Homo sapiens: one gene and its partner. The protein of the gene in region 1 interacts with the protein of each later gene in a pairwise test. Each region holds a gene or a part of one and is shown on either strand. Other genes may lie near its edges.

Region 1 (3,500 bases):
GCCGCATGAGAGGCTTGCTGTGTTCTGGGGCAAGCTGCTGTTTCTGCCACACAGGATGACAGCAGCTGCATTGCCCATCATTGAGCTTAAATGCCAGCATTTGGTTGGATGCCTAGGAGCAGAAGAGAGGGCAGTGATCAGAATGAGCAAGGTTATAATTAGCCCTGCTGCCAAGCTACACGGTGACACGAAGTCTGCCCTACTCCGGGTTGCGGGAGGGGGCTTTCACGCTCCTCTCTGCTCCTATTGGTAGAAGCCAAAGGTGCATCTCCCTGTCCTGACTCCATCCTCAGGGAACTGGGGCTGCTCCAAGCTTCCAGAGCGCTAGGGACAGCTGCCGTGAGTGTGTGCCTGCGTAATCTGCCATGAGTGTGTGCCTGTGTGTGAATGGGTGTTACGTGGGGAGGGGGGAGGGCGGTGCGTTCATGTGTGTGTGTGTGTGTGTGTGTGTGCCTGTGTGCATGTGTGTATGAGAAACGTGCTCCTGCCAGGAGCTAGACTCTTCATTTCCCATCCTACCAAGGACACAGCTCATCACAGCAACCCCTCCGCCTACCCCAGCCCACTCGGGTGTTCCTCGAGCACTAGCCCAGATCTGCCTTCTTTCGTTCTCTGGGTATAAGAAGGAGCAGAAATTTCTTCTCTGTTTCATGGCGAGTCTTCATCTTCACCATTATTCTTAACAGATCATTTTGGGGCCCCGACTCTGCCATGTACTGGGCCAACCACTGAAGGGCTTGCCTGGCTCAGCCAGAGCCTGGGCCAGAGCAGGACTAGGAACTGAGCCCACAGGCCTTGGGGAAATCACTGCACTTTTTGGAGGCTTGGTTTCCTCATTGGTTCTCAGTTTCCTCACGGGCATTCTAAAATTTTACCTGGAATCTAATTTACAGAGGTATGGCTGAGTGATAACACAGGGAAGCCAGTGCCATTGGGAAGAGTTTAACGTGATACACAATGTCCCTAGAAACCAGATGCTCAGCCCGCCATGTGGGGTGCAGGGGGAAGCAGCAGGCTTGGGTCAAGAGTCAGAATCAGGGGTGAGGGAAAGCCCAGGCTACAGCCCTGTTGGGGCTCCCACAGGAAGTGCAAGGCAGGGCAGATTAAGCAACCTAGGGTTGGCTAGTCTCAACATCCTGGCAGGCTTTGGGCTACAGGGGTGATCTCTAGTTGTCTCTCTGGTACCTGAGATAATTTGGGACAGGGGAAATATTGTCTTGGTGTGTGTGTGAATTAGAGAAACGGGGTGGCTGGCTTGCATTTGAGAGGCATCCTTCCAAGTCAGTCATTTTCTGTCTTCAGGAATTAACTAGCTCTGGGACAGTAAGTCTCTCTCTGGGTCTGTGAGGCTCCCAAGTGCCAGAATATCAGGATCAGAGAAGATAGAAAAATATAGTCAATATAGGTGTCTCTGTGATGAATGGGTGCCAAATACACAAATACAGAATCTAAGAAAACACATGGGGTTAACAAAGGTTGCAGAGATTAAGGTTTAAAGTTGAGGCCCTCCGTATAAGTTGGCTGTCTTTCTTCTAGCACAGTAATTGGCAATAAGTGGTCTTATGTATCTGGGAGAAGATAAGCGAGGGGCAAGGGCCTCAGACACCCATGGGCATCACTCCCCACACCCCAGCTGGATGCCCACAAGACTTGCAGCTGCCTCCTGAGTCTGTGGCCTCATCGGCTCCAGGAGTACCAGGCTACAGGACCTAAGCTAATCTCCCACTCCTGCTGTCCATCCATTATGTTGCTTTGTCCCCAGGTGGTAGGTGAGTGGAAATTCAGCAGGATTCACTGTGACATCTTCGTCACTCTGGACGTCATGATGTGCACGGCGAGCATCCTGAACTTGTGTGCCATCAGCATCGACAGGTGAGCCCAGCCAGGGTGGAAGAGGTTGCTCTGGCCACTCACCATTCTGGCTGCCCCAGCTTTTCTCAAAGCCAGGCTGTGTCTCGTGTCTGTGATGCTGTGCAGCTGGCTGTGTGCATGGGGGTCCATGTGTTTGTGTGTATGGGTGTGCATGTGTGTATGTTTGGCTAGGAGAGCACACACTCCCTAAAGAGAAGCCATCTATGGACAGTGATGCTGCCAAGCATACTCAGACAGTGACTGGTACAAAAGGGGAAAGATTGTGATTCTGACGGAAGCCCTAGCTCTAGCACATCTTACTCATGTGACCTTGGGCAGATGATGGACGTTTTCAGAGCTCTCAGTTTCATTTTCTAGAAACCTACATTGATGACACCTGTGGCCTGGAGCTGCAGTATCTGGTTATGCATTTTATGTCCTTGGCACATGGCCAAGGGTCCCAGGCCATGCACACCTTGCTAAGCTGCATCCTTGGAGCCTTCCACTAATTTGCACAGATATGACCCTACCTCCCTCACACCATTCTTGGAAGATGAAATAAGTTAATGAATGAGAAGGGCTGGGTAAAAAAAAAAATGTGATGAAGGATTGTAGACAATTGCCATTGTTATTTCCTGCTAACTAAGGCTTAAATCTTGCTCTGAGGGGCCTGGCTAACAATTTATCAACAAACATTTCCACCTTATGGGCTCAACACAAGTGCAGTGGGTACAGTTTCAAAAGTGCAAAGATGCAGGCCATGGTTCTTCGAAAAGCCTGAAATCCAGGTGGGGCCGGTTAGAATAATAGATATGAGCTAAGAGTAAACAATAGCTCACCAGTGATTAAGTGTTTGGGCTTTGCCAACTGTCCTCGCCATCTGAGTTTGGGGACAGGAGGGAGGGTTGAGTTAGCATCTCAGGCAAGCTTCATAGAGGTGTGTCAACTGTTTAGCCCCAAGGAGTGAGGGTGTCTCTGGTGTGTGCATATTGTGGAGTGAGGGGTCCCTGGGCCTGCACCCCAGATTCAGGGTCCCCCGCCCTTGCAGGTACACAGCTGTGGCCATGCCCATGCTGTACAATACGCGCTACAGCTCCAAGCGCCGGGTCACCGTCATGATCTCCATCGTCTGGGTCCTGTCCTTCACCATCTCCTGCCCACTCCTCTTCGGACTCAATAACGCAGGTACATTCTGCTTTTGTTTGCCTGAGGCTCAGCTGGCCCTGGGCCCCTGCTCCCTCGAAGGGCCCTGAGGGAGCAGAGTCCCTGGCACAGATATGGGTGGAGGCCCAATGGAGGCCTATCACTACCCTGGACTGAGTCCAGGCTACGTGTCCTGGGCCAAGCCCCACTCAAGAGTTGTTCTAGGTTGGCAGAGAGGAAACAGTGGCCCAGGACACAACGGAGTTGGATGAGGAGTGGGGATAATGGTTCAGGGGTATGTCTGGGAATTTTCAACTTTGGTTATTAAGTTGAAGAGGCAAGACGTGCTTCACAAACTGCATGTGTGTATATGTGCACATGAACATGGGATGGCGGAGGCTACTGGGCTTCCATCCACTCCTGACAATAGTATTTTTGTAATGAAGCTGCAGCCCTCAGGGCCTGCTAAACCCAGGTCAGGCCTTAGCCACCTGGAGCAGGAAAGC
Region 2 (3,500 bases), on another chromosome or scaffold:
GGTTCCTTCAATGTGCTAGGCACACTCCCACCCAGGGCCTTTGCAAAGGAAATTCCCTCTGCCCAAAATGTTCTTCTCTCAGACATCTGCAAGACTGTTGTGTCACTTCCTTCAAGTCTGTGCTTTAAAGATACCTTATCAAAGAGGTCTTCTTTGACTATCCCTCTCATTCCCATTACTCTGTTTTGACCTTTTTCACAATACTTAATCATCCCTTGATATAGATGTTCTGGTCTCTGTTGCCCTTCCTTACTCTCTCCCCTTGCCCCCACCAAGAAAAAAAAAGTATAGTTTATGGATGAGAGGCTTTTATCTGTCCTTTTCTGTACTATAATCCTCAGTGCTTAGACAAAGCCTGACATATAGCAAGAGTTCAATAAATAGTAGTATAATCATAAGTAATGCTCTCTTGCTAAAACTAATTACAATGGTTACCTCTGGAGAGGGGCAATGGATTGTTGAAAGGTAAGGTGTGAAGACTTCCTTTTCTCTACTTACCCTTTTGTACCTTTTAGATTTTAATACCATGTGTATGTATTTTCTACCCACCCCCAATTTTTAAATCGGGACAAAAATAATTTTAATAAACAGATTTATCTTGTTGCTTTTGAATAAACATTAAAATCAAGATTTTTTTCATCGCAATGCTACCCTGTAGCATATCAGCCATCCTTTGAAATTTTGTGCAGTTTATAAATTAAAGAGCATGCTTTCTATATCTTTATGTCAGTTGAGCGTTTTGCAGAGTTCCTAGACATAGGAAGGGCTACATACATGTTGGTAATTCAAAATCTGAAAAAGAGGGAAATAATGTTGTACAGGCATTATTTTTTAGTGAACTAGAGGGAATTTCTGAACAATATATTCATTCTTTTCTAAGGGTCTATGAATATTTAGCATAATAACACATTCTTAGATTCTACCAGCAGTCAGTGTCAAATATATTGGTTTATAAGTTTTAAGAATCCACCATTTTCCCCTTTTTGAAAATCACTTATCAATTTCAGCTTTTCTAGCCCTAGTCTTATTCTCCAAAGATACTGGGAATGAATTTAAAGCTGCTCAGCACACTCATTCAATTCCATGAGATGTAAAGTAGTTGGATGTGAAGAACTGATCTCATCAAAGTAGTAATACAAGATTTTACCTTCTGTTTACTTATCCTGGGATCCCAGTATCTCTTTCTGTATGTTTCAATTTTCCAACTTAAGAATCACTGTCCATTTTAAATTAGGGAGCTCAAATAAGAATTGAGAAGCCCTTCCCTCCCTTTTCTCATACCCTATCACTACAGCATCTTCCACAAACAGTGGGCCTCTCTGGCTCACACTCTTCTCACTGTTCTCTTTGCCCTCAAATATTATTTAACCAAACAAAACTGGTTGTCTTTCATTTTTGGACCATGTTCTTTACAATGACTTTAGCCTAGAGCATTCCTATGTAGATACGTTTGTCTCTTGAAATGTCTTTTATTTTCACTGCCCTCTAAATTTTCCAGCATCGTTTTCAAAACTCCCTTAGTCACCACTGAAATAATCTAATTGTTGAATAAAATCACAACTAACTAATCCAAAGATCTTGATGTAACATTTAGCCAGTTATTTCTTTGAAGATGTAGAGAATGAGATAGATGATAGAAATAAAGGGAGAGAAAGATTTTGTTTTTCACAGCTAGACAAAAAGACAGATTTTGTCTTTCACAGTCTGAGCAAGCTGTGCTCATATTTACTTATCCTGTGTTGATCTCAGAAAACTAACTCATACCCTTGTGCCCATGGGGTTAGATTATTATAATTCCCTTCTAGTCAAGCTTCCAGCAATAACTTGGGAATGAAGAAAATGAAAAATAACACAAAAGGAACTATTTGGCTAAATTAAATACTGTGAATCAGAAAGGTGCACATGTTTTAGGAAGTCATGACTGACCTGTGTTTAGCACAGATCCTTACACAAAGGAGGCATTTAACATAAGTCTACTAAGTTGAATTGAACCGCAATGGTTTCTCACTTTACAAAAGATAATAAAAGCTTTCTGTAATCCTTGCAATCCATGCTCCCAGGGATAGACAATAAAATGGGCAAGATAACCAATAATGCTTCTCTCAACCCTCAGAATCAGAAGTAAAAAAGAGATGGAGAGAGGAGAGCCTATGAGCAGGGCAATGAGCAGGGTGGTTTTCTTGGAACAGTAAGTTCATGAAGGGAAAGTTAACCTGAAAGCCTTTATAATATTTATCAATGTATTTTAAAAGTATGTAAGCATCCTAAATTTAATTTAACCTAATTTGAATTCCCTATATTAAAGAACATATATTGTACTTACTTCCAGAAATGGTATTGATTGTATCCAGAGGATATGCCCACAGAAATAAATTGCATTAGTTTTCCAAACTCTTTTATTCATCTTATATGTTTCTTTAAAGATAGTAATGGCACAGTGTAATGTTCCTTACCATTTCAATAGAACTGTAGCTTTCTCAAAAGAAAGAAGATGGAAATTTATACCTTCTGAAGGGGATTACCTGGAAATGACTCCAAATAAAAAATGTCTACACATCTGTCAAACACATCCAAAAGTGAAGACAGTTAATCTAGCCTCCAAATGGAATTTAGAAGATGTTTTTCCAATACAGCATCACATTTAGCATTTGAAAAATGAGGACATATAAACAATATGGTCCATGTAAAGTAAATTGGAAAATGCTTTTTGTAATTATCTTGAAATTTAAGTCAAATTATTTATAAATTGATATCACTGCAGCAAATCATATTGGACTGATTTTTCCTGACCATTCTCCATCATGTTCTTGATTTTGCTTTCCATATATTAAGCAGTCAATGAGTTAATTTCCAAAGCAGGCAATGAGTTAACCTCTATTTCATTTTGTTCAGATGTTCTATTTAAAATTCTTTCTTTAAACAAAGGACCATTCTTTTTTCCTTTTGTTATTGTATGCTCCTTTTGAATAGTTTCCAGTAATAAAATAACTGATCATGAAAAAACAGAACAGTTGCTCTTAACATTCTTTGTATAAAGTTATTAGATGATGGCACTTTTATGATTAACAACGCTAACATGTCGTAGCCTACCTACGGTGTATTAAATGTTCCCTTGTCAACACACATAATTTCACATGTCCATTATCAGTTTAGACATGAAGTTGTAACTTTAGAAGACAGTGTTATTTTGATGAGACTATTTCCACGCCACAAAAGGGACAGAAGCAATGAGAACACCTGAAAATAGAGGATTGATGGAGTTTTATGGTGCAGTTTTAATAATGTTTAAACTTATATTCATTCCAGGACACTGCTGAGACATATTTTTGGAAATGTTCCTGGGATAATTTTAATTACCATCAATGTATAAAAATAAATAACAGAATATCTGTCCAGATGGCATGATTGGTGATGTTTTTCAGAAAAACAGTTATTAAAACATCAATATCTGTCTTATATTTCCATCTAAAAAAGAAACAAAATCTGTTTACAGTGCATCA

Evidence for each region.
Region 2: the proteins of DRD2 (region 1) and RTN1 interact in a two-hybrid assay, tested with the Homo sapiens proteins (one large-scale study listed by BioGRID and IntAct).

Annotation. Positions count from the first base shown.
Region 1 is NC_000011.10:113,416,399-113,419,898, reverse strand, and holds part of DRD2 (D(2) dopamine receptor), read left to right. Parts: intron 1-1,762; coding exon 1,763-1,872; intron 1,873-2,899; coding exon 2,900-3,036; intron 3,037-3,500. UniProt on the Homo sapiens protein: Dopamine receptor whose activity is mediated by G proteins which inhibit adenylyl cyclase. Positively regulates postnatal regression of retinal hyaloid vessels via suppression of VEGFR2/KDR activity, downstream of OPN5.
Region 2 is NC_000014.9:59,864,277-59,867,776, forward strand, and holds part of RTN1 (reticulon-1), read right to left. Parts: intron 1-3,500. UniProt on the Homo sapiens protein: Inhibits amyloid precursor protein processing, probably by blocking BACE1 activity.